Homo sapiens: one gene and its partners. The protein of the gene in region 4 interacts with the protein of the main gene of each other region in a pairwise test. Each region holds a gene or a part of one and is shown on either strand. Other genes may lie near its edges.

Evidence for each region.
Region 1: the proteins of MXI1 (region 4) and USHBP1 interact in binary tests that used the Homo sapiens proteins (3 or more experiments, as listed by UniProt).
Region 2: the proteins of MXI1 (region 4) and NOTCH2NLA interact in binary tests that used the Homo sapiens proteins (3 or more experiments, as listed by UniProt).
Region 3: the proteins of MXI1 (region 4) and PEAR1 interact in binary tests that used the Homo sapiens proteins (3 or more experiments, as listed by UniProt).

The regions. Positions count from the first base shown.
Region 1 is NC_000019.10:17,261,746-17,269,159, forward strand, and holds the start of USHBP1 (harmonin-binding protein USHBP1), read right to left. Parts: upstream 3,001-7,414; 5' UTR 2,926-3,000; exon of another isoform or gene 2,816-2,925; intron 2,603-2,815; 5' UTR 2,555-2,602; coding exon 2,501-2,554; intron 2,406-2,500; coding exon 2,257-2,405; intron 1,246-2,256; coding exon 807-1,245; intron 1-806. Other genes in the region: BABAM1 (BRISC and BRCA1-A complex member 1), read left to right, coding at 7,062-7,346.
Region 2 is NC_000001.11:146,155,991-146,163,033, forward strand, and holds part of NOTCH2NLA (notch homolog 2 N-terminal-like protein A), read right to left. Parts: intron 826-7,043; coding exon 490-825; coding exon of another isoform or gene 302-489; exon of another isoform or gene 240-301; coding exon 163-239; 3' UTR 1-162.
Region 3 is NC_000001.11:156,889,433-156,896,717, reverse strand, and holds the start of PEAR1 (platelet endothelial aggregation receptor 1 isoform 1 precursor), read right to left. Parts: upstream 3,001-7,285; 5' UTR 2,881-3,000; intron 1-2,880.
Region 4 is NC_000010.11:110,203,051-110,210,637, reverse strand, and holds the start of MXI1 (max-interacting protein 1), read right to left. Parts: upstream 3,034-7,587; 5' UTR 2,830-3,033; coding exon 2,556-2,829; intron 408-2,555; exon of another isoform or gene 323-407; intron 1-322. UniProt on the Homo sapiens protein: Transcriptional repressor. MXI1 binds with MAX to form a sequence-specific DNA-binding protein complex which recognizes the core sequence 5'-CAC[GA]TG-3'. MXI1 thus antagonizes MYC transcriptional activity by competing for MAX.

The DNA of each region.
Region 1 (7,414 bases), on a different chromosome or scaffold from region 4:
TCGTGCCTTAGCCTCCCTGGTAGCTGCAGAATTGTGTCAAGCAATTCTCCTGCCTCAGCCTCCAGAGTAGCTGGGATTGCAGGCACGTGCCACCACACCTGGCTAATTTTTGTATTTTTAGTAAAGACAAGGTTTCACCATGTTGGCCAGGCTGGTCTCTAACTCCTGGCCTCAAGGGAGCCACCCACCTCGGCCTCCCAAAGTGCTGGTGTAGATTACAGGCATGAGCCACTGCACCCAGCCAACCTGGCTGATTTTTTTTTTTTTTTTTTTGAGACAGAGTCTCACTCTGTCCCCCAGGTTGGAGTGCATTGGCACGATCTCAGCTGACTGCCATCTCCATCACCCGGGTTCAAGTGATTCTCCTGCTTCAGCCTCCTGAGTAGCTGGGATTACAGGCCTATGCCACCGCACCCGGCTAATTTTTTTTTGTATTTTTAGTAGAGATGGGGTTTGACCATGTTGGCCAAGCTGGCCTTGAACTCCTGACTTTGTGATCCACCCACCTCAGCCTCCCAAAGTGCTGGGATTACAGGTGTGAGCCACTGTGCCTGGCCAACCTGGCTGATTTTTAATTTTTTTGCAGAGGTGGCAGTCTTGCTGTGTTGCTGAGGCTGGTCTTGAACTCCTGGCCTCAAAGGATCCTCCTGCCTCCACCTCCCAAAGTGCTGGGATTATAGGTGTCAGCCACCACACCCAGCCTTAAAAGGTTTTTTGAATGAACAAATGAATGAATATTGCCTACATCAGGCCCACCTCCTCCCTCAGACAGAGAGCCACATGGGACTCAGGATGGCCCCACTCACCTCTTTCTGCAGCGTCTCCTTCTCAGCTCGGATGGCCTCCAGGGAGGCCTGCGTGCGGACCAGCTCATCCTCTCGGCTACTCAGGGCCAGCCGGAGCCAGGCATTCCTCTCGGCCAGGCGAGCTGCCTCTCGCTGGCAGCTCCCTGCCCCTTCCTGCTTCCCAAGGGAACCTGCTCCCCCTTCGCTTGTGCCTTCGAACTCCATCGGCCCAGAATGGCTGGGGGGCTGGTGGCGCCAGGCTGCAGCCGCTGCCTCCAGGGAGCTCAGAGTGTGCTGGAGGGTCTGAAACACATCGGGGGCCCCATTCCCAGGGGGCACAGTCTCCTTGTACTGTAGGGCTGCTTCTGGGGCTTGGTGGGCTTCCACTGCAGGTTTGTGGGGCACTTCGGGGGCTGAGGCCAGTTCCCTGCCAGAGCCCCCATCCATCTTCTTGTCAGTCCTGTGGACACCAACTCAGGCACTTGAGTCACTCCATGCTGGGCAAGGAATTCTTTTTTATTTTTTGAGACGGAGTCTCACTCTGTTGCCCAGCCTGGAGTGCAGTGGCGCGATCTCGGCTCACTGCAACCTCCACCTCCTGGGTTCAAGTGATTCTCCTGCCTCGGTCCCCCAAGTAGCTGGGATTACAGGCTCCCACCACCACGCCTGGCTAATTTTTGTATTTTTAGTAGAGACAGGGTTTCACCATGTTGGCTAGGCTGGTGTCAAACTCCTGACCTCAGGTGATCCGCCCAACTCGGCCTCCCAAAGTGCTGGGATTATAGGCATGAGCCACCATGCTCGGCCCTGGGCAGGGAATTCTGAGGGCTTAAACTTCATGGTCTTGGGGAGGTGTGAGCGGAGCAGGGAGTTGGCAAGAGCTGCGTGTTCTGGGACTGGCATCCCAGGGTGAGACTGGGAGGCTGTGAATTCAAGGAAGAGGCTAGATAGAGGTGGTGAAGAAGTTGGAGGGGAGACCTGGAGCTGAGAAACAGAGTGAAGTTGGACTGTGACGGGCACTGGGAAAGGCCTGAAGGTGAGAGACAGAAGTTTCTGGAAATAGGGTCTTCTGGGGCGGCGGCTTACACTTGTAATCCCAGCACTTTTGGAGGCCAAAGTTGGGGGATCACTTAAGGGCAGGAGTTCAAGACCAGCCTGGCTAATGTGGCCTGTCTCACTAAAAATGCAAAACTTAGCCGGATGTGGTGGCGCACACCTGTAATCCCAACTACTCAGGAAGCTGAGGCTCCCGCTTGAACCGGGAGGCAGGGGTTGCTGTGAGCCGAGATTGTGCCACTGCACTGCACTACAGCCTGGGTGACACAGCAAGACTCAAAAAAAAAAGAAAGTCAGGCTGAAGGCAATAGGGAGCTATGGTAGGTGTGTGAGCAGAGCAGGCACATCAGCAGATCTGTGGATGGCAAAGATGCGTCTGGACTGGAGTGAAGGGCACAGACCAAGCGGGTCTTACCTGCTTCCTAGGCCTTGGCCACTGACCTCCTCCATGGGGCCCAGCTGCTCCAGCCCGGAGCTCACCGGAGGTGGGGCAAAGCTGGGCTTGGAGCTCCCACTGGCTGCCTCGACCTCCTCTGAACTCTCAGCCACGGGATCCAGTTCACCCTGCAAATGACCCCCGGGGCCCTGCTCTGAGCCAGGCAGGACAGGACCTTGGGGTCCCCAGGATCTGGGTGTGGAGGGGAGAGGGTGACACTTACGGGTGGAGCATGCCTCCCTCGCCGGCTTCGGGGCCGCGTGGCCCGGGCACTCATTGCTGTCCAGAAGCCAGTGCCCTCTGAATGCTTCTCCTTCGTCAACCCCTAAAACCACAGCCTGCCATGAGCTCTTGCCTTTGTTGTCCTGGACAAAGGACAACCTCAATTTCCTCTGCTGTGAAATGGGGCACTGACTACCCCTCAGGAAGGGATTTTGTTATCAATGTTGATTGGGCAGATTTGAATGCCTCCCTGGACAGGGAGCTCACTACCTAAGAAGGTTGTCCTGATCTCCCCCTTCTTCTCTGCCTTCTTTACCTTCACTACGTCTTTGTCCACTTTCCTCCTCTATTTGAGCCTGGGAATGCGATCTCAAGAATTCCCTCTCCTCCCCGGCCCTCCTAAATGAGAGGTTCAGCTCTCTCTACCTCTCTGATCCTCTGGGGGTAACTTGATCAGAGGCCTGAGTCCCGGGACACTCTGTTGGGGTCACTCTGACCACTGCCTGTTCAGGCCTGGGCTGGCCAAGCCTGGCCTGGGAGGGGCTGGGAAACAGGAAACCCCCTCCCCTGGTCACGTGACTTGTTATTGTGTTGTTTCCTTCTCGGGGACAGCGGCTTCCTGCAGCCCTAGCGGGGCACACATACCTGACTCCCAAGGTTTCAGCCCCTCCTCTTCTCAGCCTCCAAACTCATGGCCCTTCTAGCTCTGACTCTTGGATTTTATTTCTCAAGAGCTAGAATGGGCCGAGCACCATGGCTCACACCTGTAATCCCAGCACTCTGGGAAGCTGAGGAAGACAGATCGCTTGAGTCCAAGAGTTTAAGACAAGCCTGGGCAACATGGCGAGACCCCCGTCTTTACAAAAAATATAAAAATTAGCCAGGAGTAGTGGCGTACGCTTGTAGTCCCAGCTACTCAGGAGGCTGAGGTGGGAGGATTGCTTAACACCTGGAAGTTGAGGCTGCAGTGAGCCGTGGTCACGTCACTGCACTCCATTCTGGGTAATAAGGCAAGACCCTGTCTCAAAAAGAAAGAAAAAAAAAGAGCTAGAATGTTCCCGTGAGCTGATGGTTTTTATTTGGCTCCCCTGTGAACTTTTCTTCTCTGCCTGTCTCTTCATTGTGGGCTGACAGTTCTCTTTTTTTTGAGATGGAGTCTTGCTCTGTCGCCTAGGCTAGAGTGCAGTGGCGCAACCTTGGCTCATTGCAACCTCCACCTCCTGGGTTCAAGAAATTCTCCTGCCTCAGCCTCCCGAGTAGCTGGGATTACAAGTGCCCACCACAATGCCCAGCTAATTTTTGTATTTTTAGTAGAGACAGGGTTTCACCATGCTGACCAGGCTGGTCTCGAACTCCTGACCTCAAGTGATCTGCCAGCCTCGGCCTCCCAAAGTGCTGGGATTACAGGCGTGAGCCACCGCACCCGGCTAGGGATGGGTTTTTCCCATGTTGGCGAGGCTGGTCTTAAACTCCTGACCTCAGGTGATCCACTCACCTCAGCCTCCCAAAGTGTTGGGATTACAGGCATGAGCCACCGACCCCACCAGCCCCAGAAACATTTAAGAGCCACTTGAAGCCTCAGTTTATTTATTTATTTTATTTTATTAGATGGAATCTTGTTCTGCCACGCAGGCTGGAGTGCAGTGGTGCGATCTCGGCTCACTGCAACCTCCACCTCCTGGGTTCAAGCAATTCTTCTGCCTCAGCCTTCTGAGTAGCTGTGATTATAGGTGCGCGCCACCACACCCAGCTAATTTTTTGTATTTTTAGTAGAGACGGGGTTTCACCATATTGGCCAGGCTGATCTCTAACTCCTGACCTCGTGATCCACCCACCTCAGCCTCCCAAAATGCTGGGATTATAGGTGTGAGCCACTGCCCCCAACTCCTCAGTTGTTTTTTTTTTTTTGAGGGTCAAAGAAGCCGGCCACATTGGCCAGGCTCTAATTCGAGAATAGCCGGAGGGGCTGTGTAAGGTGAGCTTTGAAGCATAAAGAACTTGCCAGAAAAGCAACAGGAGGAACAGCATTCCAGGCAGAAGGAACTTCCTGGGCAAAGGCTTAGAGCCTTCAAAGAGCCGCTCTAGGTGACACAGCGAGACTCCATCTCAAAAAAACAAAAACAAAAACGAAAAAAAAAAACACAACAAAAACCCAGCTCTACTAAAAATACTATATATATCTCAGCCGGGCCTGGTGGTGCATGCCTGTAATCCCAGCTACTTGGGAGGCTGAGGCAGGAGAATTGCTCGATCCCTGGAGGTGGAGGTTGCAGTGAGCCGAGATTGAGCCACTGCACTCCAGCCTGGGCGACAGAGCAAGACTCTTGTCTCAAAAAAATAAAAATAAATAAATAAATACTTCTGGGGCTAAGGGGGAAGTGTGCACTAAGAAGACAACGGCAGCCTGGGCGACAGAGTGAGACTCCATCTAAAAAATAAAAATAAAAAAAAAAGGAAGGAAGCCTAGGGTAGTCTGATGCGGTGGTCCTCGCCTGTAGTCCCAGCTACTTGAGCGATCGCTTGGCTGTAGTGACTAGCCATGATCGCGTGACTGCAGTCTAGTTTGGGCGACAGAGCGATACCCTGTCTCTAAAAATAAGAAAAAAAAAAGCCATGAAAAAAGAGGTAGGCTTGAAATAGGCCCGACTTAGCTTCGCTCCACCTACAGTGACCCAATAAGACCAGAGTAAGTATTTTTTGATTCATGCAAATATATGTAAAATAAGGAACAAGAATTAAGTAATTGGGAAGGGCCCTGGATGCTCAGGCCACACCCACATGGGAATACCTGCCCCACATGGAGGCTCAGGCCAGCTCCACCAATCACCAATCAGCTCCTCCTCTTTCCCTAAATCGGCCTTCTCCGTCCCTCTTAGCCTATCACATTGCAAGCTCCACCTCTATTCCACGTTTCAGCCTATCACGGTAGAAGCACTGACTATTGTAGTCTGATTCGGCCAAAAACAAAAATTCACTAATTTTTTTAATCCAATCACATTTCATACTTTGCTCCAGTGTAGCCAATCACATTCCAGGTCCCGCCGCACCCAGCTCCAGGCAGCTCTCACTCCAAACCCCACCCCCAACCCAGTTTCAGCCTATCAGTTTCCAAGTTCTTTCTAGCCTCAACCAGTTTCTGTCTCTGCTTGTTCTGCAGCCCGCTGAACTACATTTCCCAGGAGGCGTCGGGGCTGCGCCGTACAACTTCCGGCTGTAAAGATGGCGGCTTCCTAGTGAGTCGGCGGCTGATTTAGAAGGAGGTTCAGGCTACGGTGAGCCGAAGGTGGGTGGTGAAAGCGTGTGGGGCCCGTTCCTAGGGGCCCAGCTCCCTTTGCCCCAAGAGATCCAGCTCCTCGCCTTTCCTGGGGCTTCCGCCTTTATTTCTGGTTTCTCCTGCAGTGTAGCCTCCATCCTTCTTGCTGCCGCTAAAGCCTTGTTTTTCTTAGAGGTGTGGGGACTGCAAGGCGCTCAAAGACCATCTTGGGAAGCCCGTGCCTATTTCCCAGATAGACAAACTGCTCCATTCGCGTCCTGTTTCTCTCCAAGGGGAACCACAGTACTAATATTTTGCTTCTCCCTCATGCAGACACCCGCTAGGGACGAGGGTGTCCTAGAGGTTATTATTCCCTTATTCACCAAGACATTTTCAGTTTTAGGTAACAGAAAACCCTACTCAATCTGGCTTAAGGAAGAAAAGGAAGTTGGTGGCTTATAGATTGGGTCTAACAGGAGCTGGGTCCAGGTGGTCAGAATTCGATCTGCAGTTTTCTCGGTGGAGACCATTTCGCTTTTTACCGAGGCAAAAGGGGCCCCTCACAGCTCTCAACTTTATTCTACCAGCTCTGCAACTCTAATGAGAGTCTCTTTTCCTTGATGACACTGCTAGAAGTTGCAGAGCTGCCACTCAATGGCCTGATTTGGGTCATGTGCCCATCCCTGAGCCATTTTCAGTGGCCAGAGAGCTGGGATGTGCTCACTGGCCGAGTAGGGGCATGGGGCTAGCACTACGTTAAAAAAAAAAAGAGGAAAAAAGAGGGGGGACTGTTATCTTATGTCGGAGTGGCTGCTCGGCTGAGAGGTGTAAAAGGCAGCCATTCTGCAGCTGAGGAAAGTGACTCCCTAAGAGGAGTGACTCATCATCAGTAAGCGGCTCATCGCCCCTCTTCCTTCTTAGTAACCAATCTTTTTTTTTTTTTTTTTTTTGAGACGGAGTTTCGCTCTTTTTGCCCAGGATGGAGTGCAGTGGCGGGATCTCGGCTCACCGCAGCCTCCCCTCCCGGGTTCAAGCGATTCTCCTGCCTCAGCCTCCCGAGTAGCTGGGATTATCCGCATGCGCCACCACGCCCGGCTAATTTTGTATTTTTAGTTGAGACGGGGTTTCTCCATGTTGGTCAGGCTGGTCTCGAACTTCCAACCTCAGGTGATCCACCTGCCTCGGCCTCCCAAAGTGCTGGGATTACAGGCATGAGCCACCGTGCCCGACCGTAACCAAATGTTTTTAAAACTCCAAGGGGAGGATTCTGGCTTCCCCTGTCCGTGTTCCATCTAGCCACACAGGAGCCATGGAAGTGGCAGAGCCCAGCAGCCCCACTGAAGAGGAGGAGGAGGAAGAGGAGCACTCGGCAGAGCCTCGGCCCCGCACTCGCTCCAATCCTGAAGGGGCTGAGGACCGGGCAGTAGGGGCACAGGCCAGCGTGGGCAGCCGCAGCGAGGGTGAGGGTGAGGCCGCCAGTGCTGATGATGGGAGCCTCAACACTTCAGGAGCCGGCCCTAAGTCCTGGCAGGTGCCCCCGCCAGCCCCTGAGGTCCAAATTCGGACACCAAGGGTCAACTGTCCAGAGAAAGTGGTAAGTAGAGGGGGTGGCCTGGGGCTCTGAGATGCTAGGGAACCTAGCATCTTGTCTTTTGGGATTAA
Region 2 (7,043 bases), on a different chromosome or scaffold from region 4:
AGAGAAAATCAAGGGCAGCTGGGTGCATTTAGGTGGATAAGAAAACAATGAATTACTCCATCAAAAGCAAAAGCACAAGCACATAGTAAAGTTGATCACCCACTGTTAATGTCAATTCAGTTTAAAGCACTTTATTAACCACACATACATATTTTCCAGTGTCTAATTCTCATCGTGTTCTTTTCCATTCCAGACTTCCCTGTCTCTTTCCCAGAGCTCTGTTCCTCTTCTCACTGTTTCTACAAAAGGGACAATAAACAATTTTCTAGCCACTCATCATCATAAACCCTGACATGCTAAATTATCCCCTGCTCAGTTTATGGACCACAGTGGGCCCATAAAACTCCTCCCTCACTAGCAACCCACCCCACACAAAATTCTCACTTCCCTTTTTCCTTGCGCTTCCTAAAAAAAGCAATTGAGCCACACCCACTACCTCCTGTGCTAGGGGTTTGTCCCCTAATCCTGGGACACTAGGGAGCTCCTTACCTGGAAGGCAGTTGCACTCAAAAGTGAAGTCACCAGTCTGCCGACAGGTGCCTCCATTGACACAAGGCGAGGGTGCACAGGGCACATACAGGCTGTCACAGTACTGGCCTGTGAAGCCCTGAAGGCACTGGCACTGGTAGGAACCAGGCAGGTTGAGGCAGGTGCCACCATGCTGGCAGTGTCCTGGAATGTCACACTCATTGACATCAGTCTCACACTTCTGCCCTGTGAAGCCTGTGAGGCATTTGCAGGAGAACTGGTTGGCCACAGTGGTACAGGTACTTCCATTTGCACAGGGATGAGACAGGCAGGCATCGGTCCATTGGCACTCCTTACCTAAAGGAAGGATAACAAAACTCAGTACTGGCCACAGAAATAGGAGATGGCCCCATCCTCAATACCTCATTGACATCAGCGAGCTCTTGCGTGGAGAAGACCTCAACTCTTTGCATTTTACAAAAGGCTAAATCAGAGCCTCCTCAAGGTCATCTGACACAGAGCCCTCTCCAGTAACTCTCCAAGGACCTCAGCAGAGACACAAGGACTCAGTGGGTGGAGCACCTGGAGGCAATTGTAGGTTAGTCACATTGAAGCCCAATCCTGCAGGACGCTATCAGCAATAGGAGTCTGGATCCATCTACTCTCTCAGAGCTCACTGTCTTTGCATATGCTGCTCCTGTTTGAATATCAACTTCCGGGCCAGGAGCAGTGGCTCACACCTGTAATTCCAGCACTTTGGAAGGCCGAGGCAGGCAGATCATGAGGTAAGGAGTTCAAGACCAGCCCGGCCAATATGGTGAAACCCTGTCTCTACTAAAAATACAAAAATTAGCTGGGCATGGTGGCGCGCACCTGTAATCCCAGCTACTTGGAAGGCTGAGGCAGAAGAATCACTTGAACCCAGGAGGCGGAGGTTGCAGTGAGCCGAGATTGTACCACTGCACTCCAGCCTGGGCGACACAGCAAGACTCCATTTCAAAAAAAAAAAAAAATCAACTTCCCTTCTGTTTTCCTAGTGAACTCTCCCTATCTTGGCAACTCTACTCAAAAGTTCCAACCTCTGTAAAGTCATCCTTAGTGCCCCTCACATACATACATGTGCGCAAAGACAGATACACCAAGTTTGCTATTTTCTTCTATTATACCACCTGCCACACTGGCAGGGTTGGGTCTCCGTGGTATGCTCTCAAATCATGTCTGTTGAATGGATAAAATATATCGATATTTTCCACAAAATATAGTTACTAAATAGACCTCTGGTGATAGAAACAAGTCAATACTACTTCTGTTTCCTCTAAATGTAACACACACATATATTCTGGGAAACATTTTATTAATTGTGGCCTTGCTATAAATATCTGTTGATGTGTTTGAAAATGATGAAGGACCTCTGGGTCCCTATATAACAAATGAAATAGAAGCCATCAGGAGGACAGAGGTCTCGAAGGTATTCCGTGGACTTTCTCAAGTAGGAAAGTACCAGCACTAGCAGGAAGACTCTGACGGGTTGAAAACTAAATCATGATGCCAGGGGAAGCAAAGCAGATTCTTTGAGGCAGAAAGAGAAAGAGAAAAAAATATCCTCACAGAACTAGTAAATTTGGTATTCACATGGCTGGCTTTTTGTTGTCATTAGTCTAAGTCGCTTATTATTTAAACTACAGAGATAAGAACTCCTTGAATTTTTATTATTATTATTATTATACTTTAAGTTCTAGGGTACACGTGCACAACATGCAGGTTTGTTACATATGTATATATGTGCCATGTTGGTGTGCTGCACCCATTAACTCGTCATTTACATTAGGTACATCTCCTAATGCTATCCCTCCCCCGTCCCACCACCCCACGACAGGCCCCGGTTTGTGATGTTCCCCTTCCTGTGTCCAAGTGTTCTCATTGTTCAATTCCCACCTATGAGTGAGAACATGCGGTGTTTAGTTTTTTGTCCTTGCAATAGTTTGCTGAGAATGATGGTTTCCAGCTTCATCCATGTCCCTACAAAGGACATGAACTCATCCTTTTTTATGGCTGAATAGTATTCCATGGTGTATATGTGCCACATTTTCTTAATCCAGTCTATCATTGATGGACATTTGGGTTGGTTCCAAGTCTTTGCTATTGTGAATAGTGCCGCAATAAACATACGTGTGCATGTGTCTTTATAGCAGCACGATTTATAATTCTTTGGGTATATACCCAGTAATGGGATGGCGAGAACTCCTTGAATTTGTTAATACTCCAGTTGATTGTCTAGGAAAGTATCTAAATCTCTGACCTCATAGAAAGGTAAATGGGAGACACAAGAGTTTTTCTATAAGGGAAAAAGATGCGAGATGTGACATATGAGCACAGAAAAGTGCTCTCTGCCTATCAAGGAATGTCAAATCAAAGGAGAAAACTATAACACAAATTTAGGCACAGCATATACATCTCAGGGAGCTAAGACAGAAAATGAAGGAACTGCAATTCTTCTTGTCTTTCCACTCATGTCACTAAGAGGCACTTATTTACAGTGGAGAAGAGATATAAATGCTCACTTCTAGCAAGTGTGATTTTCAGAGTGATGCCCACAACTGAAACAGAAAGATCCCCGGGCCGGAAGTGGTGGCTGATGCCTGTAATCCCAGCACTTTGGGAGGCTGAGGTGGGCAGATCACTTGTGGTTAGGAGTTTGAGACCAGCCTGGCCAACACGGTGAAACGCCATCTTTTCTAAAAATACAAAAATTAGCCGGGCTTCATAGCGCATGCCTGTAATCCCAGCTACCTGGGAGGCTGAGGCACAAGAATCACTCGAACCCAAGAGGTGGAGGTTGCAGTGAGCCGAGACTGCGCCACTGTACTAAGCAACAGAGTGAGAAGAAAGAAAGACAGAAAGAGAGAGGGAAAGAGAGAGGAAGAGAGAAAGAGAGAGAAAGAAAGAAAGAAAGAAAGAAAGAAAGAAAGAAAGAAAGAAAGAAAGAAAGAGAAAGAAAGAAAGAAAGGAAGGGAGAAAGAAAGAAAGAATCAACCCTGAATTTGGTTTCCATATATATTATGTATAGGCACTAACTTGCTGCCTATGCTTCTTCATCTCTGAGTGGAGATGAGCTAGTAAGCTGACTGAGGTATAGCGCTATCACAAAAACCAAAAGGATGACCTTGATCTGTGATGATTCCTAAAGTGATAGACAAAAATAGCATATGTATAAAAGATGATCAGAATCGGCCGGGTGTGGTGGCTCACACCTGTAATCCCAGCACTTTGGGAGGCCGAGGCGGGTGGATCATGAGGTCAGGCGATCCAGACCATTCTGGCTAACAAGGTGAAAGCCCATCTCTACTAAAAATACAAAAATTAGCCGGGCATGGCGGTAGGTGCCTGTAGTCCCAGCTACTCAGGAGGCTGAGGCAGAAGAATGGCGTGAACCCGGGAGGTGGAGCTTGCAGTGAACCGAGATTGCACCCTGCACTCCAGCCTGGATGACAAAGCAATACTCCATCTCAAAAAAAAAAAAAAAAAAAAAAAAAAAAAGGTGATCAGAATCTTGCAGAACACACCAAGAAGAGATCCTTCTTAACAACAAAGGAAGAAGTTTTAATTTGGGACCATTTCAGAGTGACATTTTAATTATGAAGAAGGCATTACTGTCATTTCCACTAGCCAGAATTAAAATATTTTAAGTGGGTATATGCCCCCCTACTTTGCCTCCTAATAGCAAAACAACTCAAAACTGACAATCAGGAAGAAATTATTCTTATAACACCAAATATTTTCAGTGACTTACATCATCAATACCATCATCATCATGATGGAGATCATGGATCATCCTAACTACCCTCTACCCCACCAACACCTTTTGATGAATGATATGGTTTGGTAGTGTCCCCACCCAAATCTCAACTTGAATTGTATCTCCCAGAATTCCCATGTGTTGTGGGAGGGACCCAGTGGGGTAACTGTATCATGGGGGCCAGTCTTTCCTGTGCTATTCTCATGAGAGTGAATAAGTCTCATGAGATCTGATGGGTTTCTCAGGGGTTCTGCTTTTGCTTCTTCCTAATTTTCTCTTGCCACCACCATGAAAGAAGTGCCTTTTGCCTCCCACCATAATTCTGAGGCCTCCCCAGCCATATGGAACTGTAAGTCCAATTAAACCTCTTTTCTTCCCGGTCTCGGGGATATCTTTATCAGCAGCGTGAAAATGGACTAATACAGTAAATTGGTACCAAGAGTGGGGTTTTTGCGAGAGTGCCAGCTATCCCGAGGGAAACTTTGGAGGGAACCAGCTACTAGATGGTTCAATTAGTCTTTCGCCCCTACACCCAGGTTGGATGACCGATTTGCACATCAGGACTGCTACGGACCTCCACCAGAGTTTCCTCTGGCTTTGCCCTGCCCAGGCAGAGTTCACCACCTTTCAGGTCCTAACATTTGTGCTCATGCCCCACCTTCCCAGTGCAGAAAACAAGATGGGCCGGTGGAAAGCTGACCTGGCTACTGCCACCGCAGAGTGCCCAATTTGCCAGCAGCAGAAACCAACACTGCGCCTTTGATATGGCACTATTCCTCAGGGTGATCAGCCAGCTACTTGGTGGCAGGTTGATTATGTTGGACTTCTTCCATTGTGAAAAGGGCAGATGTTTGTCCTTACTGGAATAAACACTTACTCTGGATATGGGTTTGCCTATCCTGCATGCAATGGTTCTGCCAAGACTACCATCCGCGGACTCATGGAATGCCTTATCCACTGTCATGGTATTCCACACAGCATTGCCTCTGACCAAGGCATTCACTTTATGGCTAAAGAAGTGCAGCAGTGGGCTCATGCTCATGGAATTCACTGGTCTTACCATGTTCCCCAACATCCTGAAGCAGAACGGTGGAATGGCCTTTTGCAGTCACAATTACAATGCCAACTAGGTGAGAATACTTTGCAGGGTTGGGGCAAAGTTCTCAAGAAGGCTGTGTATGCTCTGAATCAGCGTCCAATATGTGGTACTGTTTCTCCCATAGCCAGGATTCACAGGTCCAGGAATCAAGGGGTGGAAATGGAAGTGGTACCACTCACCATCACCCCTAGTGATCCACTAGCAAAATGTTTGCTTCCTGTTCCCGTAACATTAAGTTCTGCTGGCCTAGAGGTCTTAGTTCCAGAGGGAGGAACGCTGCCATCAGAAGACACAACAACAATTCCATTAAACTGGTAGTTAAGATTGCCACCAGGACACTTTGGGTTCCTACCTTTAAGTAAACAGGCTAAGAAAGGCGTTACAGTGTTGGCTGGGACATCAAGGCTATCAAGACCCAGGCTATCAAGATGAAATCAGTCTACTACTCCAGAACGGAGGTAAGAAAGAGTATTCATGGAATACAGGAGATCCATTAGGGCGTCTCTTAGTATTACCATGCCCTGTGATTAAGGTCAATGGGCAACTACAACAGCCCAATCCAGGCGGGACTACAAATGGTTTGGGCCTCTCCATCAGGAAAAAAAAAAACACAACCTGCTGAGGTGTTTGCTGAAGGCAAAAGGAATACAAAATGGGTAGAAGAAGGTAGTCATCAATACCAGCTACTACCATGTGACCAGCTGCAGAAATGAGGACTGTAATTGTCCTCAGTATTTCCTCCTTCTTTTATTAAAAACATGTCTGTGCTTGCACACACTTGTACTAAGAAAATATCTTCATTTTATTTCCTTTCTCCTTTATCATGTGACATAAGATTTATTGACTTCACATCAGCATTTAAGTATCGTTAACTTTATGTAAGAGTGTTTCAGTTGGGGACTAGTGTGTTTCCGGATGTATGAAGAATAGTTGTACTACATCAGGTGTAATTATGACCTAATTATTGTCTTTATTTGAAGATTATGTGTGATCTCAGGAGATGTGTACGGGTTCAAGTTGACAAGGGGTAGATTTGTGGTGGTTAAAACTGAGTGTGTCAACTTGATTGAATTGAAGGATACAAAATATTGATCTTGGGTGTGTCTGTGAAGGTGTTGCCAAAGGAGATTAACATTTGAGTCAGTGGGCTGGGGAAGGCAGATCCACCCTTAATCTGGATGGACACCATTTGATCATCTGTCAGCAAATATAAAGCAGGCAGAAAAACATGAAAAAGCGAGACTGGCCTAGCCTCCCAGCCTACATCTTTTTCCCGTGCTGGATGTTTCCTGCCCTCAAATATCGAACCCCAAGTTCTTCGGTTTTGGAACTCAGACTGGCTCTCCTTGCTCCTCAGCCTGCAGACAGCCTATTGTGGGACCTTGTGATCATGTGAATTAATACTTAACAAACTCTCCTTTATATATATATAAAGATTGCCAATATATATATATTAAGATTGCCACCAAGACACTTTGGGTTGGAATATATATACATACATATATATTCCATTAGTTCCATCCCTCTAGAGAACCCTAATACAATGAAAAATTAATATAACAGTATTCTACACTAACTGATCCAGTATAGTCTTCTGAGTACATTTTTCACTTTTTTGCTTATTGCATTTATAGAACTCTTGGTTTAGTGCTTAAAGCAGGAGAAAAAATGAAGAATGTT
Region 3 (7,285 bases), on a different chromosome or scaffold from region 4:
CACCCCCTCACTGTCCACTGCACACATCTCCCGCTACACAGAGGGACTGGGCCCCAGGTGCCAATTCATGGGGGTAGGACGGAGGGCAAAAGTGGGAGGGCATGAGCACCCACCAGCAGTGAGCGGGCTACGCCCCAGGGCCCACTCACCTGCAGGGATCCTGATTCACACATCAATCGCAACCCCTCCCGCAGGCTGTCGCCAGTGCCAGTCCCAACCCTCGCCGCCACCCTGGAAGGTGCTGGTGATTGTCATCCCCATTTGGTAGGCAGCACAGTGGAGGGTCTCAGGTAAAATGCCTTGCCAAGGGCTGTCTGGCTGCCAGGGGCAAGAGCAGGATTCAAATCTGCTTCAAAGCACAAAGCAGTGTGGGGAGGTAACCCCTGGGTTACCTCCCAGGTACTGGGATACTAATTACTGCGCCTCGTTAAATGTGTGCTGTGGCTAGATCCTGTCTTTTAGTTCTCCCAGCAAGCCTATAAAGTAAGTGCTATTATGCCTCCCATTTTATGAAGAAATATCCCAGAAAAGTTCAGTGATTTGTCCTAGGCCACACAGGCAACTGAAGCCGGAGCAGGGATTTGGGCCAGGTCTATGTCATTCCAAAGCCTGTGCTGCTTTCTTTTTGTTTTGTTTTGAGACAGGGCTTCGCTGTGTGCCCAGGCTGGAATGCAGTGGCGTGATCATGGCTCACTGCAGCCTCAACCTCCTGGGCTCAAGTGATCCTCCCACCTCAGCCTCTTGAGTAGATGGGCCCATGGGCGGGCACCACCATGCCAAGCTAATTAAAAAAAAAAATTGTAGGGATGCAATCTCATTATGTTGACCAGGCCGGTCTTGAACTCCTGGCCTCCAGAGATCCTCATACCTTGGCCTCCCAAAATGCTGGGATTACCGGCGTGAGCCACCTCGCCTGGTGTTTCCAGTGTGCTGCCTTCTAACCTCACAGTTTCTCTTTGGTCTTCTGACTTTCTCCTCCTCTCCCTCTGTCTCCGCCTCCTTTTTGTTCTATCCCTAGGTCTCTGCTCTATTTTTCTAGGCCTGCTTTTCTCCCTCCGGGCATTTTGTTGTAATGAGTCTGTGCCTCTGCTGTGTCTCTGCATCTGTCAGCCTCTGTTTCCGTATTTATATCTGTCTCTATCTCTGTCTTTGTGTTTCTCTCTCTCCTTCCCTGTCTTCTCTGCCTCTTCCTTCTGGCTTCTCCCCTGTAGGTTAGATGACAGAAGCCAAGATCCTCCCCAAAGCTAGGATGGCACCCCAGGGTCCCCCATGAGTCCTGGGAGGCCTCTTTCTCAAGGCTCCCAAGGCTCCTCAGAGGAGAGGCTTGGGGAATGCCGTGGTGGAGGCTCCACCTGGCCTCAGCCTCCTCCCCAGCAGTGTGTGTCGGGTGCGGGGAGGCACACAGCAGCCCCATGACCTTCTATCTCTCTCCAGGTTTCCGACTGGTGGATGAGGCTGCCTGGAGCGTGAGTTTCCTCTTCTGGGAGAGTCTGATAGGAGATGTTGAGGGGGGACAGAGGGTGGAGGAACAGATGCCAACTCTCAGCTTCATCCTCCAGTGGAGAGAGAGGAAGGCAGAGAAGTGAGTCTGGCCAACCCAGCTCCTAGAGATGGCAGCCCCACCTGCAGTGGGGAACATGGTGGGTGGGCCTTCGGAGGCCTCAAGAGTGGGAGAGGCCACACAGCAGGGAGGAGACACAGGAGATAGGAGGGCTGCGCCCACACCCTGGCTTATGACTGGCTCACAAGCACACACAACAGGCCCTATACCATGAGCTGGTTTTGAGTGGGGTTCAGAGATGAGCTCCCCCGTCTCCAACCGTCCCCCTAGCACAAGGCCAGCTTAGGCCAGGGTTGAGAGCTGACACCCGGCCCAATCCTGCCCGAGCTGAGCCCTGGCTGAGCCTGGGAACCTCAGGCCAGCACAAGCTGTTCCTGTCCCCGGGGACTAGGGTCACAGCCCAGCCCCAGGAGAGGCCACTCATAACAGGCCAGAACAGGGGAGTGGAGAGCAGCTACTGGAGGCTGGAGACGGGGGTGGGGGTGAAGGGTTGCCTTGCTGGGGCCTGGGCTCCTGGACCCCCCACACACCCACCTGGCCCTTAGCACAACTTCAGATCATCAGCCTGCCAAGTTTTCTGAGGATCCAGTTGCCCGGGACCTCAAGCTGAACCCCCAGTCCTCATAACTGGCAAAGATGTGAGAGCCAGGGACCTGCAAACCTGGGTCCTTCCCCTACATCCTCCCTCAAACATTCCTGCCGCTGGACAGAGAGATGACACTGATAATCTGTTTATCTAGCGTCATTCAAAGCAGGAGACACGTTTTTGCTCACTTAAGCCTCACAACCCATGAGGTAGGCCCTATATTATTCTCCTTTAGAAATGAGAAACTGAGGCACAGAGGTCAGGCCTCTTGACCAAGACCCCACAGACAGTAAGCTGCAGAGTGGAGGGTGGCACTTAGGCAGTCTTGGCTCCAGTGTCGATGCTCTTGTGGCTACACTTCCCTTGCAAGCCAAGGACAGCACCCAGTCTTCTCTTCCCAGCCCTGGGAGGGGGCAGTGAGCCAGGCTGCCCCTGACTCACAAAGTCCGGGGACCAGGGGCTTAGGGAACAACCTCGCTAGCATTTCATCTCATTTACATGTTCATTACGGAAGGGAACCCCCAACCCATCCTCTCTGGCCCCCTCCACTGTCCCCTTCCCCTCCTTCACGTCTCTCTCCATCAGTCCCTCTTTTCTACACTCCTGGGTCTGGGGCCTCAGACTCCAGTCGAGGAGGGGGACCTCAGGGACCGCAAGCCCTTTCCCCGGGGCAGGGTGGTCTCCGGGGCCGCACCACCGGGCCTCCCCTGCCAGGGGGCGCGCAGTCACTCACCTGCCTTGGGGCCCCGTCTCCCCTGCGGCCTGGGGTAGGAACCGCCGGGGTCTGCGAGGAGGAGGACTGGACAGCCGAGGACGGGGCGAGGGTCCCCACTTCGAGCCCCAGCCTGACTGCGGGAGCGGCGGGGAGGCGGGACGCTGCTGATCGCAGGGCCGGGAGGGGCGCCGAGGGGCGGGGGGCAGGAAGGGGGTGGGAACTCGGGCCCTCGCCAAGGCAGGAAGTTTTGACAAGGAAACAGGAGCCGGGGGAGGGGAGATCCAGGCGCCCGGGAGGGAAAACTGTATTCTGGGTGGGATCACAGAGGCCGACTCTGCGCGGCCTGGGCCAGGAGCAGAGGGGGATAAGAAGGGGATGAGGAGGGGAGGTCAGCGCAGGGGCCCAGGGCCCCAGTCCCTCCCTAGCTTCCCCTCGTTGTGCGGCCTGGGTTACTTACCCTCTCGTGCCTCAGCTTTCCTATCTGCAAAGTGGGGTTGTGGGAAGGAATCAATGAGATCGCCTACGTCGGGCACTGTCCAGTGCTGCCCAGCAACCGTGATCTTATTAAGACCCCTCCCGGGCACCGCATCCCACTAGTCTCGGAGAGGCTGACAGGGCGAGGCCCCCCTCTCCTCCTGCCGCCCCTAATCGCACTGCGGAAGGCCGGGCGCGGTGGCTCATGCCTATAATCCCAGCACTTTGGAAGGCCGAGGCCGGCCGATCGTGGAGCCCAGAGTTTGGAGACCAGCCTGGCCAACATGGCGAAATCCTGTCTCTACTAAAAATACAAAAATTAGGGCCGGGCGCCGTGGCTCAGGCCTGTAATCCCAGCACTTTGGGAGGCCAAGGAGGGCGGATCATTTGAGGTCAGGAGTTAGAGACCAGCCTGGCCAACACGGTGAAACTCCGTCTCTACGAAGAGTACAAAAAAAATTGCCGGGCGTGGTGGTGGGCGCCTGTAATCCCAGCTACTGGGGGAGGCTGAGGCAGGAGAATCGCTTGAACCCAGGAGACGAAGGTGGCAGTGAGCCGAGATCGTGCCACTGCACTCCAGCTTGGGCGACAGAGCACAGCTCCGTCAAAAAAAAAAAAAAAAAAAAAACGCGCCAGGTGTAGTGGCGCGCACCTGTGGTCTCGGTTTACTGGGGAGGCTGAAGAGGAAGGATCGCTTGAGCCTAGGAGGTCGAGACTGCAGTGAGCCAAGATCCTGCCACTCCACTCCAGCCTGGGCGACAGAGCGAGACCCTATCTTAAAAAAAAGAAAGAAAAAAAAAAGAAAAGAAAAAAGTCACACCGCGGGAGGGTGTGACCCTGGGAAGCATTCTCCGCCTCTGCCCGCCCCGCCTCCGGCCCACACCCACCAGCGCGTAAGCAACTCCTGAGCCCACCGAGTCCGGTGCGAGCGCCACCTCGCGGCTAGCATCCGCTTCCCAGAGCCCCACAGCCGGGGGACCAGACCTGGGAGCCCTTCCCCGCCTGATAGCAATGAACATTAGCTTTCCCCGCCTGATAGCAATGAACATTAGCTTTCGCCGTGGTCAGCCCTTCAGGCGTATTGCCTCATTGAATCCTTCACTCGAGATTGGTTTCATCATTATGTCCTTTTACATATGGCGAAACCGACGTCCTGAGCGGCTTAGGACACTAATTAGTGGCAGAAGCACTATTTGGTTTGGTTTTGAGACGGAGTCTTGCTCTGTCTCCCACGCACGATCTCAGTTCACTGCAACCTCTGCCTCCCGGGTTCAAGCGATTCTCCCGCCTCAGCCTCCTGAGTAGCTGGGATTACAGGCGCGCGCCCACACGTCAGGCTAATTTTTGTATTTTTAGTAGAGATGGGGTTTCACCATCTTGTCCAGGCTGGTCTCGACTTCCTGGGCTCAGGCGATCCGCCTGCCTCGGCCTCCCAAAGTGTTGGGATTACAGACCTGAGCCACGGCGCCCCGCCTACAAGCAAGATTTGAACCGAGGTCTGTGGTGCGTCCAATTCCAGGGCTCACACTCCACCTCCTCACACAGAGAGCCACAGAGTAAGCTTAGGTGAGGAGAGCAAAGCAGTATCATCCCTCCTGGGAGACTTTTAAAACTCAACTGTATTGAGGTATAATTGACATACAATAAAAAATGTACCTACTTAGAGCATACAATTTGGTGAGCTTTGTTTTTTAGACTTTTTTAAATTGGGGTAAAATATACATACTATGAAATGTATCATTCGAAACATTTTCAAGTGTACAGTTCAGTGGCATTAAGTACATCACTTGCGTGGAAGCATCGGTGTTATTCATCTCCTTTTCCGATGAAAAGGTCAGAACTTTTTCAGCATCCCAAACTGCAACTCTGTACCCATTAAACAGTAACTTCCATTCCTCCTGCCCCCAGCCCCTGGTAACCACTACTCCACTTTCTGTCTCTATAAATTTGTCTGTTTTAGATACCTCAAGTAAGTGAAATCATGAATACTTGTACTTTTGTGTCCGGCTTATTGCACTTAGCATAACACTAGCTCGATGAGTTTTTTGTATGTGTGTGCATCTGTTTAACCACCATCCCAATAAAAAAAAAAGTTTTTAAATTTCCATCTCCTCCAAAGTTTGCCTGCTCCCCTTTGCAGATAATGTCTCCAAATTCCATTTTCACTCCCCACCCCAAACCCTGTGAAATCTCTGATCTGTTAGGCCGGGCGTGGTGGCTCATGCCAGTAATCCCAGCGCTTTGGGAGGCCGAGGCAGGCAGAGGTCGGGAGTTCAAGACCAGTCTGGCCAACATGGTGAAACCCTGTCTCTACCGAAAATACAAAAATTAGCCGGGCATGGTGGCGGGTGCCTGTAATCTCAGCTACTCAGGAGGCTGAGGCAGGAGGATCACTTGAACCTGGGAGGTGAAGGTTGCAGTGAGCCGAGATCGCACTATTGCACTCCAGCCTGGGCGACAGAGTGAGACTCTGTCTCAAAAAAAAAAAAAAAAAAAAGAAAAGAAAGAAAGAAATCCCCCATGTGCTTTCTGTCACTGTAGGTTTATTTGTTCTAGAATTTCCATATAAATGGAACTGCACAATATGTGCTTGCTTTCCTTTAGCTTCTTTCACTTACCACAGAGCTTTTGAAAAGTCCACTCCTTCTCACCATGAGTAGAATTCCACTGTATGGACCAACCTTGTCTTATCCCCACCCCAGCTGATGGGCCCTTGGTCTTTTCTGGTTTGGGACTATTATGAGTGAAACTACTATGGATATTCTTGTACAAGTCTCATGTGGATATATATGTTTTCATTTCTCTTGATTGCTACTTAGGAATGGGATTGCTGGGTCATAACAGTTACAAATCATGTACGTATTCAGTTTCAGATTGTCTAAAATGTATAACTGAGAATACTTTTGTCTGGGAAACTTTGATGTCAGAGACAAGCAAGAGATGTTTAATTGGTGTTTTAAGGGATGAGAGGTGTGTGTGGGTGGGCGACTGGATGGTGCTGTTGGCTTTGGGGAAGAAAAGGAAGAATGAAAGGTTCAAGGAGGCTTTTTAGGACTTCAGTGTCACCAAGAGGCTCCAGCAGAGGGCAGCAGAAACCATAGGACAGCTCAAGGGCCGGCGGCCAAAGACCATGGAGTTGCAGACTATCAGAGGCCAGAGGGACCTTGAAAGTCACCTGATCCAGCACTTTCAAGGAGCAGAGTGGGAGACTGAGGCCTGAAAAGGAAGAGGTGCAGGCGCTCTTCCCTTCCTTTGCCTGGCCCACTTGTTCTCATCCTTCCACACTCAGGCATGAAATGTTTAACACACACATGTCTCTCTCCCTAGGATTCTGAGTTCTTCAAGGACTGAGGCCAGGTCAAAATCATCTTTATGCTCCCAGGGCCTGGCACAAAGTAAGTGCTCAATAAAGTACCACCTTGTGCAATGCTCTTCCAGCTCCCTGCCCCCCAGCTCTGCCTGCTGGGCCCAGCCCTACGTATAGCTAAAAGGATGGACGTCCCCTGAGGCCTGCCAGGAAGGCAGATGCAGGCTCGAGGTTCTCATTCATTCAGCTGTTCAATAGGCACCATTTTGTGTCTGCCTAGTACCCAGGACACAGGAAATGACATTGATGATGACCATGATGATGATAATAGCAACTACTAACTTTGGGGTGGGGGATGCTGGTGCGCCAGCCTCCTACTGATTTAACTTACCTCCTCTTCCTAACTTACTCCTACGGATTACCAGGTACTATTTTAAACCTTTATTTAATAACTTATTTTAGCAATAAATAAGAGTTTCCTGCCCTCAAAGAGCTCACATGTGAATTGGGGAAAGAGTCAATTATTCATTGAATAAAGATTTATTGAGCACCTACTATATGCAGACATTGGGGCTACAGCTATGAACAAAATAGATAAGATTTTCTGCCTAAATATAGAAAGTGGAAAAAAAATGAAGCTAA
Region 4 (7,587 bases):
TGGGATAAAGTGGCCCCCGTGGACCGCTTCTCTTTGCAAGGGGGATAACAGAGGGCCTGGCGGATGGTCGCACGGAGTTTGCCGGAGGTCACCCCAGCCTGTTCGAGCTGTTGGGGACGGGGCGAGGGCCTGGAGCGGGGTCTCTGCAGCCAAACTGGGCACGGCGCGGCGCCCCAAGCTCTCGGGGAAATCTGGGGGCCGTTGGCATCACGTCATTTAGAGCCAAACAGCAGCGGCGAAAAGAAGCAAGAGAGCTAAAAATACTCCCGCCGGGAGCCGGCCGGAGGAGGGGGGCTGCGGGGCCGAGGGACTTATTACGCACATGAAGTTGACTTAGACTTGGGTGCTAAGGTTCCAAACCCCTCTCGGGGGCTGGCAGATTTGCAGGGCGGACGCCTCGGGCGATGGGCTGGGAGGAAGCCCCTCGGCTTCACCAGCCTCTGGAGCCCGGTTACGCCGCCACGGGCCCGCCCCGCGCGGGGCAGCCCAAGCCCGGCGCGCCCGGCTCTCTGCTTACGTGACTGGTGGCCACGCCGGAGCCCCGGCACGGGGTAAACAACGAGGTGGCGGCGGCCAGGGCGGCGGGGTGGGGGGTGGGGGGTGGGGCAGGGGGAGGTCTCCGATTGTCTGCGGGTGCGAAGTGGGGGGCGGGACGCTGAGGAATCTCCGACCGCCTCCTCCATACACCTCGCTGGTGAGGGGGGGTGGCTGGGGTAGGGGGGCAAGCCAGGTTTGCCACACACTGCCAACGTGCCCTCATGGGGTGTACCCCTAGTCAGAGCCAACGCCACGGGACAGACTCCAGAGAACTGGTAGCCGGGGATGGGGGTAGCTGAAGAAATCGCGCCCCTCCCCCCTGCAACAAAAGCAAACACACCAAACAAAACCACGTCTTCACCCAGCTCCCCACCAGCTCTGGCTTTTCAGAAACTACCCTCCAGACAAATGCACACATAGCTTCCCGCGCCCCATCCCCCTCCGACCAGCATGAATAATTGCGAAGCGATTCGGCTGCACAGCCTGCGATGCGCCTTTCTCGCAACCCAGGCACTCCGGGAAAACAGGCGAGAAGAGAAAGAAAAGAACGCACCACCGACCTCACAACACAAATCCTCGTTTTGGCCTTACAGCGTCTGCACAATTGCGCTGCCAACACACGGTTCCTTTAACCCTGAAGACCTGGGGTATCAGTCAGCAATGGTGTTTTTGTGTCTGAGGGTTGTTGTGTTGGGTGGGGGGAAGGTTGCAAGATCTGACACGTTGCAATCGGGACCTTTCTTCTTTCTTTCTCTCTCTCTCACACACACACGCGCACACGTACACACACACACTCGCGCCTCATTGATCTTCCTACTTGTTCGGACACATTAAACATCCCGGTTTCCCCCTATCTGTCGGTCTGTCTGCCTAGTTCCCTTCCTCCTTTTCACAGCTATTATTCTGAGGACGGTGCTGGATACGCTGCACACGCGTGCCCCCGTTAGGGCGCTGAGTCGACTGCCTGGGGAAAGCTGGGTGACCTGGCTGGTAGGGGCAAAAATGAAACAAATAAATACAAAAAAGAAGCCAGGCCAGGGTGGGGTTCCCAGCACACCCCCACCCACGCACTACTATCCACGTGAATCTGGGGGTGGGCGGGTGGGGGGAGTAGAAATCGACCAGGAAGGCGTTTGCCTTGCTTGCCCTGTGCGCTCACTCAAGAGCCGTCTCCCGGAAAATAAAGAAAAAGCACAGAACAGCCCACACCTTCTTCCCCAACTATTGTTTCTCAAAGATCCCAAAGTTTCCTTCTAGCCGCGTCCCCACGGCCAAGTTTCCCGGGCTCAGGACGGCGTGTCCGGGGCGAGCTGCTGGCGTTGCTTGGCCCCGCCGGCCTCCTTCTTTGGGGGGGGGGGGGCGGCGGTGGCACCCCACGGCAACGGACGTGCAGGGGGACTGTGTCCGTAGACGTGATGGCCTGAGCCCAGTCCTGCTGCTAGAGGGAAGGAAAAAGGCGAAGTAGGAGGGAGAGAGAGAGACAGAGCCGAGCCCACGCCGTGGAGAGCTGTTTGGTTGTTATTGTTGTAGTGTGTGTCTGTGTGTTTTCTTTCTGGAACCTCTGAGCTCTGCCTATGGTTTCCAACTTTCGGCTTCTAATCCCCACCCCACCCAGGAACGAGCAACAGAAAAACAACACTTGTCTGCCTGAGAAGGCTCCGGAAAAAAAAAAAAAAAAAAGGAAGAAAAGCGACCTCAAAGAGATGAGCTCTCGGCTCAGTTGTCAGCAAACAACAACACTCCCCCGCTCCTCCGCTGGGCCATCCTCCCAGCCCCAGCCCGCCGGAGAGGACAGACCGACGCACCGACAGGCCCCTCTCCCCCTCGCCCGTCTTTGTTACATCTTTAGCAGCTTTGTGCGTGCGTGTCCTTTCTCCGGTGTCATCGGCTTTACTGCCAAGGGCTGGATGTGTATGTTGGGCGGGGGGGGGACGGGCCGAGCTCGCAACAGGGGTCGCCCAAGTGGGCGAGAAAGAAAGAACCGGGCGCCGAGGAAGAGCAGGGGCCCCCAAACTTACTTTTGTTTTCTTTCTCGATCTGCTCCAGGTAGCTGGCGGCCTCGAGCAGAATCTGCACGTTCTGCAGAAAAGTGTTGATGTGCTTCTCCATCGAGTTCTCGCTGGTGTTGAAAATGTCTGAGAAGGGGCACCTGGGCTTGGCCCCAGCGGGGTCCTCGGGCAGGGCCGGGGGCTGGGGCGCGGCCACGGCGGGGGGCACAGCCGGGGGCGCGGCGGGGGCCAGCCCCGCGCCCTCGCAGCGCGCCTCCTTGCGCGGCCGCCCGCGTTTGCCCATGGAGGAGCGGGGGTCCGCCGAGCTCGTCCTCTAACGGGGCTGCGCGGCCCGGCCGAGCTCCGGGCCCCCAGGGAGACCCGGCCGGCTGGAGCAGAGAAGGCGCCGGGGCGAAAAGCCGGCCTGACTTCCCGAGCCTCGCTGCCTGCAGTTGTGTGTGTGAGTGTATGGGAGTGTGTGTCGGTCTCGCTGTGAGTCTGTGTGTATGGGAGATTGAATGAACCTACAGGACAGACGGAGGCACTCTGGCGCCTGGGTCCTAGTGCGAGCCTGTCGCCATCGGACCGGTCAAAATAAAAGGTGGAGACTAGCGAGCGAGGCAGGGACCGCCCCTGCCCGTCCCCGCAGGCTTCCCTGCCTCTCCCCAAGGCTTACCACAGAGTAGAACACTGTCTTTTAACCGGAATGGAAAAAAATACCTGATGTCTCTGGGTGCACCTGCATAAAAACAAACTACTTTTTTCACAGAAAAATAATGCCTCAGAAAGTGTCCAGCACAATGCCTGGCACATAGTTAGGTCCCCATACATGGTGGCTGCTATGACTTAAAAATAAATAAATAAAAGCTCCCCAATCCAAATGGGAAGAAGGGAACCAGTGTGTAACCAGAAGATCCCCCCACCCCCAACACAAACACTCCTACTCACAGACACACATACATACGTAATCACGCACACACTTGCGAGGCACCTGTGTGTGCCTTCACACAGTCAAATGAAATCCCAGGCCGTCCAAATCCGAGTTACAGATTTACTCATGCCTTTCTCCCTTCAAATGCAAAGTTATTTTCCAGAAGTGGGAGGAGATGTCAGCATCCCTCTCCACACTCCTCTGCCCAGCCTTGGTTCAGCTGTGCAAAGCTCACACCAGGATGCCTCCACACCTGGCTCCCTTTAATTTGAGAGGCAGAAGTGGCAGCTCAGGAACCACCCCCCTCCCCAGCTGAATTCCACCTTTTGCCTCTGAAAACCCCTACCCCAGCTGACATTGTTTCACTGCCACTGCTGTCCGCAATCATGGATGCTTTCCAGCCCTGGGAAGTACTGGAGGTGTCAGGGGATGATTGAAGGCTGCTCTAGGGTGCCATAGGAAAGGGTTCAAATCCCAGCTCTGCTGCATACAGACTGTGTGAGCTTGGACAAGTCCCTTAACCTCTCTTGGCCTAAGTTTCCACATCATTGAAATGTGTGATAAGATGCTTGTGTATTGTATCTGACTTAGCACACTCTGGCCCATGGTAAGCTCTTTTTCTTCCAATCCAGACCCAGGCAAGAGCCTGAGTCCCCTATTCTGATGTAACTTGTATCTAAGAAAGGAACAAGATGTAGTGAACAAGACTCTTCTGCACTTCCTTGGAAAATATCTCTATGACAAGCCCATCTAAATATGGTTACTTTGCAAGGTCACCTGGAGTTTTCCTCCAGGGGAACCATTTATATAGAGGACAAAGACAATGCTGCCCCCTGGAGGTGTGCGATGCAGCCACCCTACTCAAAGGCAGCTTCATACACATTGTCATAAAAACTCTTGATGGCCGGACGCAGTGGCTCACGCCTGTAATCCCAGCACTTTGGGAGGCCAAAGCGGGCAGATCACCTGAGGTTGGGAGTTCGCGACCAGCCTGACCAACATAGAGAAACGCTGTCTCTACCAAAAATACAAAATTAGCCGGGCGTGGTGGCGCATGCCTGTAATCCCAGCTACTCCGGAGGCTGAGGCAGGAGAATGGCGTGAACCCGGGAGGCGGAGCTTGTAGTGAGCCGAGATAGCGCCACTGCACTCCAGCCTGGGCGACAGAGCCAGACTCCGTCTCAAAAAAAAAAAAAAAAAAAGTTTATCTTCCATTATTAGAACAATTACTGATTTTTTGCTTCTGTGAGAACCACAACCTGAGTTATTCGTGTTGAAATGCCTGTAAACATCTAAAAATGTTAGGAAGACCTCATGTATGCACAGTTTCAAACAAGCTTTCTCCAATGCCATTTTGCAAAAACTGGCCCTTGTGTGAAACAGCTCTGATCTCTCTTGCCCCAAATGAAAGATGGTACTGAGACAATGAACCAGCTAAGCCCAGAGAAAACCTTGCTTTCTCTTTAATTGCCCATTGGTGGCATGGGTCAGATGTATAGTACTGCAACATACATGCACCACCAAGACAGGCACACGCATGCATGAGTGCCATGGTGGGGGAAGGGTGTTTTGTAATTATTTATTTATCCCTGTTCCATCTCTCATAGGTCTGCGAGTTTCAGAAAGCCCAGTGGGAATCTTCAAGCTGGGCCACGGATCTGACCAAAGCCAAAATAAACAATGGCTTGAAGAAAATCTACAAAAAAGTGCTGATTTGCACTATTCCCACAGTCGGCCACAGCCCCCACCATCATTCCCATGGAAAACACCACGGCTGGTGCCAAATCAAGTTTTCCCCCCATCATAGGGGCATTGTTTTTTGTTATTATGTGAGTTCTTAGCATCAGACAATGGCACCACAAGAGACACAGTGGAAGCAGGAGAAATGCCTTTTTGTTTCACAAAGTCTGTGTTACTGTGCCCCCAGAGTCTCGCATATAGTTTAGTTGCATATATTCATTTTGGTAACACGTATGTGGAACGACGAATGTGCCAAGCTAAAGCCCGAAGCCCCCTCCTTATTTGTTTTCAGAGCCCATCAAGTGTTAAATCATATTAACATCCCATTGCTCTCTCCCTTCTCCCGCTCCGTTCCCCAATTAACAGATTTCTCTAATAAAGTTGGCCCCAACAGAAAGAGTGGTGTTTCAGGGGTTATATCACAGGACAGGCATCCAGGATGCTGGGTTACAAGCTCAGCTCCATTCCCGATTAGATTTGCTTCCCAGGAGGAGCCATTCAAACCCTTTGCAACCCCCCCTTTCTTTGGGGTTTTGATTCCAGAAGTAAACAGGCCCCTTTGGAAATGCTGAGAATTTCTGCATAGAACAGGTAGGGGATGTGAATACAGCCATTCTGATGAGAACACATGTGAACTCTTTGAAAGAAAAGCAGAAATGCCCAATGAAGTCAGCTAGAATGCTCTCAGAGGGCCCGGGATATCTTGGGTGCCCAGTCGGCCTGGGTCCTGCTTTCCCAACACTCTGTTCATTTGTTTGTTTGGCTTATTTGCTTGTTTGGCAATACCTTTCCATGGACCTTGTTTGTATATTAAAGCAAGATTGTTCTTTCTTTTATTTGCCCCTTTCCCCCCAGACGTTCTATACTCTTACATCAAAGGAGTTGTTTGGCCTATAATTATGTCTTTATGTACACAGAGGCTGGTTAATTACTGAGAAGGCGATGGATGCGTTGCCATCGAAACCTACCCACCTTGCATTGGGATGGGATGCTCTTCCCTCTGTCATGGACCATTTTGGCTCTCTTGGGTTCCTTAGCCTTGCTCTTCCTGCCTCATCTATTCCCCACTCACCAGCCTTTTCTGCCTAAATCCGTCACTCGTCCACCCTCTAGTTTCTCCTTGGACCTTGCCAAAATGTCCTAGTCAGATTCTTTCTTACTCTTTGCCCTGTGATCTTTGTACTCAGACTTGGCAAACACCATGAAGAGCTCTTCTGTCCCCTCCCTTGTCACTTGAGTCCTAATTCTCAGAGCTTTCCCAGCCACAGTTTTCCTGGGTACCTTTCCCTTTTGGAAAGGAATCATCTGGCAGTGAGATGAGGAACTGGCTCACAGCTCCTTCTCCTTGGGGGCCTGACTCTTGCTTTCATTTGTTAGAAAGGAGTGGCCCTGTAGAAGGCCCAAGAATAGAGGGTTAGGAACTGTAAGACACAAGCAGAATGGTAGGAACAAGGAGAACTGTGAGACTCTGCCTCTCCCATGGCCTAAAAGTGCTGACCAGGCCTCCTCTAACCACTGCCCATACCACCCACCACCACCCACACACTCACCAGTGGGTATAGACATGGGCAGGGGATAAGTAGCCTCCGCCCTACAGTGGAGTTCACTGGGTGTCACCTGCTCCTGGAGGCATTATCTCAGCTCTCCTGGACTCTGCCCTCCTTTCTCCCAGAACTGTGAGTCTGGCAGCCTCTTCCTGGTTCAGCAGACTCCTGGGCTTCTCCTGTCCAACACCCAGTACTTAGAGGGCTTATTAGACTATGAGCTCATCAAGGGCAGGAAGCACACCTTGCTCCTCCTAGCATCCCCAGGCCCTGGCACCTAGCACATGCATGGCATAATACTGGGGCTTAGGTCACGAGTCAAAGGCATGAATGCCCTTCCCTGCCTGGTCAGAGCCTCGGTGCCGGCCGTTCATGGCTTCTCGTTCCAGTGGTGAGAAGAGGCATTTGATGCTGTCTGCAAAACTATTCCTGAGTCACTCACATTAAAGTTTAAATATCTAAATGCTGTCTCCATGGAGAAGCCAGAAACCCATTGAGCCAGATGGTTGAGGTTCCATTACAAAAAAGTGCAGAGACTCAGCTGCCCTGTCCCCTGTCCTTACTGCTGGTGACAGATCTGGTGACAAGATGGGTCTCCTGTGTTATAAGATGCCTCTAATGAAGAATTTTCAGAAATCACCAGGCGGTGAAGGCAGTGGCCTGAGACTAAATTAGAAGTCAGATGGAGCTTTTCTCACATCTCCCCCATTCTAGAGTGTCTTCTCAGTCTTTCAGGCCCCAGTTCTTTAACATCTCCATATTTTTTAATTAATTCAGCAAAAGTCTCTAAATTTATGTACATTAAAGTGGCAGGTATCAGTGACTGACTAGCTTAAATATGACTTTC